Regions from separate parts of the Homo sapiens genome. Here region 1 is linked to region 2. A link means that fine-mapping ties the variant in region 2 to the expression of a gene that starts in the linked region. Tissue or cell type: whole blood. Region 2 holds a variant in brackets; the other region holds the start of a gene. All regions are shown on one strand. Distances are from middle to middle. Region 1 holds the start of MARCKS (myristoylated alanine rich protein kinase C substrate). Region 2 has its middle 53 kb from the start of LINC02518.

Evidence for each region. PIP is the estimated chance that this variant, and not a neighbour inherited with it, causes the effect.
Region 1: it holds the start of MARCKS, and the variant in region 2 is fine-mapped to the expression of MARCKS in whole blood (TOPMed, PIP above 0.99).

Annotation. Positions count from the first base shown.
Region 1 is chr6:113,856,137-113,859,054 of GRCh38, forward strand. It overlaps MARCKS (myristoylated alanine rich protein kinase C substrate), which reads left to right and starts at 1,209. Exons shown (of 2, transcript NM_002356.7): 1 at 1,209-1,711. The coding sequence starts at 1,610. RefSeq lists enhancers at 1-23, 44-93, 364-909, 910-1,453, 1,241-1,290 and a silencer at 2,756-2,918.
Region 2 is chr6:113,484,492-113,487,409 of GRCh38, forward strand. No RefSeq gene overlaps it. Among named protein-coding and RNA genes, the nearest start is that of LINC02518, 53 kb to the left of the region's middle. The variant A/G (reference allele first, on the strand shown) is at 1,848.

The DNA.
Region 1 (2,918 bases), 370 kb after region 2:
CACGCACAAAAAGCGTCTGGTACTTCGGTGGCAAGGAGTGCAGTGACAGATGGAGGTATCCTGTGTACCATTATAGAAGGTTTTCCTCTAACCCAAGTTAGACTTGGAGAGCTCAGGGATCTTGCTATCTCTCAACATACAGAACATTTCTCCTTAGAACTGCAATCCGGTTTAGAATGTCATCGTTGCTGCTGCCTCCCTTCCTTTCAGGAGCACATTCGCCTGCGTGCGCACTCACACACACGTTCAAAAAGAGTCCATTCGATTCTGGCAGTAGGCTGAAAACGATCCATATTGACGCGAATAACATCCCAACTGTAAATATGGATTCGTCTACTCGAGGCTGTGTCTCATTTCACCATAGAGGAAAATTATGTCATTTAAAACAGTGATAAAACGCGAAGAGTTTCGATCTTCTGTAAATGGCTCTCACTTTGAATTGTGGGGGAAAAAAATCACTAATTGGGAATAGCCAGAGAAGGGGGAATTTGTTGAGCGCCCAAGGCCAATCTCAAAATATTTTATTTCATGCCAATGTGGGAGAGGGAAGGGAGTGTGGCTTCGCTGTTTGCCGCTTTTGCATTTTCCACATCTGGCCTACAGACCTAATTCTAACTTGCGATCTCGCTTGATGAAATTCGATCTTCGTGGTTTAAATACCTTTCAATTTGGGACGATTTAACCATTGCAGCAGTTCAAAAAACAAACCCTGAGCATTATCTGTAAAACCAATATGGAAAAAAGAAAGAAAACATGCTGCAAACACACAAATCGCAACCATTGTCTTTAACACTCGCATACACACACATACACATAAACACACGGAAAGATGGGGGAGGGGAGCGAGTGGAGAGAGAGAGACACACGGATATAGACCGACGAGAGTCAATGCGAGTCAAGTTAACGCTTTCTCCGCCCCGATGCACAAGTACCCCCCTCCCGTGTTAATTAATTCCAAACAAAGCAAGCCAATCAAGAAATGCATTATTATTTTCAAGCAGAGAGAGACGAGTGCCATGTATTTTTTAATTGATTTATTTATTTGGAGGACATTAATTCTCGGTCTGAGGCTGATTTTCAAACCGTTTGCAAAGCGCGGCTCCATTGTTCGCCAGGCGCGCAGACCCCGCCCCCTGCTTTGTGTGCGGCGCGCGGATTGGCCGACGCGCGCGGGGGCCGCGTCAGCGCCCGCGAGCCCATTCATCTGTGCACTTGGGCGTTGGACCCCGCATCTTATTAGCAACCAGGGAGATTTCTCCATTTTCCTCTTGTCTACAGTGCGGCTACAAATCTGGGATTTTTTTATTACTTCTTTTTTTTTCGAACTACACTTGGGCTCCTTTTTTTGTGCTCGACTTTTCCACCCTTTTTCCCTCCCTCCTGTGCTGCTGCTTTTTGATCTCTTCGACTAAAATTTTTTTATCCGGAGTGTATTTAATCGGTTCTGTTCTGTCCTCTCCACCACCCCCACCCCCCTCCCTCCGGTGTGTGTGCCGCTGCCGCTGTTGCCGCCGCCGCTGCTGCTGCTGCTCGCCCCGTCGTTACACCAACCCGAGGCTCTTTGTTTCCCCTCTTGGATCTGTTGAGTTTCTTTGTTGAAGAAGCCAGCATGGGTGCCCAGTTCTCCAAGACCGCAGCGAAGGGAGAAGCCGCCGCGGAGAGGCCTGGGGAGGCGGCTGTGGCCTCGTCGCCTTCCAAAGCGAACGGACAGGTAAATTCTACCTGTGGTTGTGGTCATTTATTTCGTGTCTTTCTCTCCTTCCCTCCTGGTGGCTCCCAAGGCTCATTCGTGGAGAGGAGTGTGGCTGGATTCTAGTCTGAAAGTTGAATGGAAATGGATAGCCTAAATTGTGGATTTTTCATAGCCGGGGTCCCCCCACACCAAAGGAGTGGTTCCTTAGAATCCTGGAGAATTCTTGAGTAGACGGGAGGAAAGGAGTGATAAATCGTCTAAAATGGCGTGGTTTGGAGATTGGCAGAACGTGACTAGCTAGGTGCCCTCCTTCCCCCGCCCCCAGCCAGGTTTCATTTGTGTTTGGGGGCACAATGGTGTTTGGGTGTCTCTCGGGTTTGTTGTCGAAGCTGGATTGTCTTCGAGATTTCTGAACTGGTGGTGTGATTGTGTGTGGCGGGGGGGGGAGTCGGGAAAGGGGGGCGCAATGGGGATGGTGGTGGAGAAAGGCGAGGAGGGAAAGGCTGTCTTATTGTATGCCGCGGCGGCGTGCCCTGGGTTCTTGGAAAGGTGGCTGGCTGGGGCCAGACAGAGGGCTTCGGTACCTTTTGATGAGGCTTTCCCACTGTCCTAAATCTTTATTCGTAGCTGTCTGTGGAATTACACATCCATTTGATTTTTAAATGGTATCTGTGGGGTGGGAACACTCGGTGGGTCCTTTAAGAACCTTTCCAGATGGTCAAAAAGAGGCGGTTCGTGCCTTTCGGTCGGGATTGTTCTTGTGCGTGGCGCCTCGACCACCCGCGAGGGGCCGCCCGGCGCTGCCCGGACCCAGGCAGATAGCCACGATTGGGTGGACCCGAGAGGTCGGCCATGGGTGGCTGCTTCGCAAACACTGGGCACCCACCACGCCTCTTTTCCTAGAGAAGAGATCGTGTCGCTTCGCCTGCTCTAACCTACTGGGGAAAGCGAGGTCTGCCAAGAGGCTTTAAACCCGTTAAAAATGCAAAATGAGCCGCCGAGGCGCGCCCAGGCTTCGCAGAATCGCAGGGGAAGGTGGGCGTGGAAGCAGAGGCGAGACCTCAGAAATAATGGGTTTCCCCCTGCCTTGTTGGTTTCAGCCCGACCGGCAGGCCAGGAAACCACCTGAGCTTTGTTTGCGGACTGTTGGGCTGCGCGATCCGGGCTCGGGGGCGCCTCGGCCTGCGGGCAGGGCCCGGCTGGGCAGGGCGGGGTGGCCCGGCGA
Region 2 (2,918 bases):
CCCTGTGCTTCTAAGGTTATCTTTTGTCCCTTACCAGCTTCCAGCCACAGAGGCCTTCTTGCTATTTCTTTCATTCTTTTTTTTGGGAGTCAGAGTCTTGCTCTGTCACACAGGCTGGAGTGCATTGGTGTGATCTTGGCTCACTGCAACCTCTGCCACCCGGGTTCAAGAGATTCTCCTGCCTCAACCTCCCAAGTAGCTGGGATGACAGGAGCCCGCCACCACGGCCAGATAATTTTTGTATTTTTAGTGGAGACAGTTTTCACCATCTTGGCCAGGCTGGTCTTGAACTCCTCGTGATCCACCCAACTCAGCCTCCCAAAGTGCTGCCATTACAGGCATGAGCCACTGCGCCCGGTCTCTTTTTTTTTTTTTTTTTTTTTTTGAGACAGAGTCATGCTCTGTCGCCCAGGCTAGAGTGCAGTGGCATGATCTCGGCTCACTGTAACCTCCACCTCCCAGGTTCAAGCGATTCTCCTGTCTCATCCTCCCAAGTAGCTAGGATTACAGGCATGCGCCACCACACCCAGCTAATTTTTGTATTTTTAGTAGAGATGGGGTTTTGCGATGTTTGCCAGGCTGATCTCAAACTCCTGATCTCAGGTGATCCACCTGCCTCAGCTTCCCAAAGTGCTGGGAGTATAGGCGTGAGCCACCGTGCCTGGCCATTCTTGCTATTTCTTAAACACACCAACCTTTTTCCTGATTCAGAACCTTTCTACTTGTTGTTTCCACTGTACAGAACATTCTATCCCAGTCTTCCTAAGGTTAGTTCTTTCTTGCAGTTCCAGTCAGCTCAAAGGTATGGCCTGGGCAGAAGCAAGGTAAGGGATGAGAAATTACTTAATGGGTACAATGTACACTATTCAGGTAATGTTTGCACCAAAAGGTCAGGCTTCACCACTGTGCAATATATACATGTAACAAAACCCTGCTTATACCCCTTCAATTTATACAAATTAAAAAAAAGAAAAGAAAAACAAAAAATCATAGGAGGCAATATCACAGACTAATACTAATTGTATGCAGGAATAGATGGAAATTCTGCTTTAATGTGCCATATTCATTGCAATTTTGTATGATACATGGAATCATGCACTGCTAAGGAGAAGCAGCACACTGATACATGTTACATATTGCATATTTTTATTATATATTGCATTATTTTGTATTAGTCGGTATCATTGTGTAGAATCAACAAACCAGCTGTTATATCGTTTTGCCTCTGTTTCCAGATTTTATAGATATATTTAATAGGCTTATGTAATAAATTAATTCAGCAAATGTTTTCTCAGCATCAAAAAAAGATATAGCCTCAAAAAGTCCTTCCTTGTCTATCAACCAAAATATGGTCCATCTCCCATCACTATCACATCATCCTGCTATACTATCTTTATAATATATATCCTTCTCTGAAATTACTGTGTTTATTAATTTTCCTGATTTTTATCTGTCTTTCCTCACTAAAATGTAAACACCCTGTGAAAAGATTCCTGCCTTTATGCTCACAGCTCTATTCCAGGAGCTAGAATAGTGCTAGTGCAAGGTAATGCTCATTTAAAAAAACTAATAAATGCCAAATGTTCATTGGGCATGAGAAGGCATATCCAAAACACTTGTTGGAGGGCAGCGGGAAGCAAACATCAAGAAAAATATCAGTTTTGAGAATACAGTGGCCTACTAGAACCCCCACAGGGATAATTTGGAGAAGGTTAGCAGAAGACAGTGAACCAACTGGCAGGAAGTCATGGGGACTGAGAAAGAACTAATTTTCAGTAATTGTTTTGAAATCCACCTGATCTGACTCTGAGTGCCTAGGTAGACAGCCATTGCCTCAGGAAGCACGT[A/G]CCTGTGTCATGCATTTCATCACTTCATTGCACCATGCCCGGAGTGGTATTTTGACTCTTTAATGTCCATGAATATGCCTTGACTTGAGAAGCACTGTAGTGTGGTGCAAAGTGCATTTACTATGAGATCAGCAGACTCAAATACTAGGTCCTGGACTAGCTCTGTGATCTTGGGAAAGACCCACACATGCCTAAACCCATGGACTAGTCTGTTTCCTGCCCTCCAAACCAACCACCACACAAAGCCAGGCATGATCCCTCTGGGCTAGGATTTTAGAATACTACTGTTTCCATTTAGTAATCTGACTGCTGTTAGCTTTAGCCTACCCTCCATTCTTGCCACAACGCCCTTTATTAATTGTCTGTCTTCTTTTCTTCTCTAGGTCAGATCTTCTTTAAGGGTTTTGTTCATGCTTACATCACATCATCAGTACCTCATCCCTACCTACTCCTAACCCCATCCACTACTATTACGCATATGGGAAGAAATAAGAAATGTGGCCGGGCACGGTGGCTCACACCTGTAATCCCAGCACTTTGGAAGGCCGAGGCGGGCGGATCACGAGGTCAAGAGATTGAGACCATCCTGGCCAACATGGTGAAACCCCGTCTCTACTAAAAATACAAAAATTACCTGGGCGTGGTGGCAAGTGCCTATAGTCCCAGCTACTCAGGAAGCTGAGACAGGAGAATTGCTTGAACCCGGGAGGTGGAGTTGCAGTGAGCCGAGATTGTGCCACTGCACTGCAACCTGGCAACAGAGTGCGACTGTCTCAAAAAAAAAAAAAAAGGAAATAAGAAAATAAGAAATGTTTGTCAAAATAGTCAAAACTTTCAGAAAAAAAATAAAAAAACAACTGGTAATATAGATCCAGTACTTTAAAAAGAAACATTCTTTGACCTAATTATTCTTTTAGAACCTTAGCCTTAATAAATAATTCCACATGCAAACAAATATACACATGCAAAGATGTTCAGTACTGTGTTACATTAATTGCAAAACAAAACAAAAACAACAAAAAACCTATAATGGAACAACATAAATAATCAGGAGGACAAGACTAAGTAATT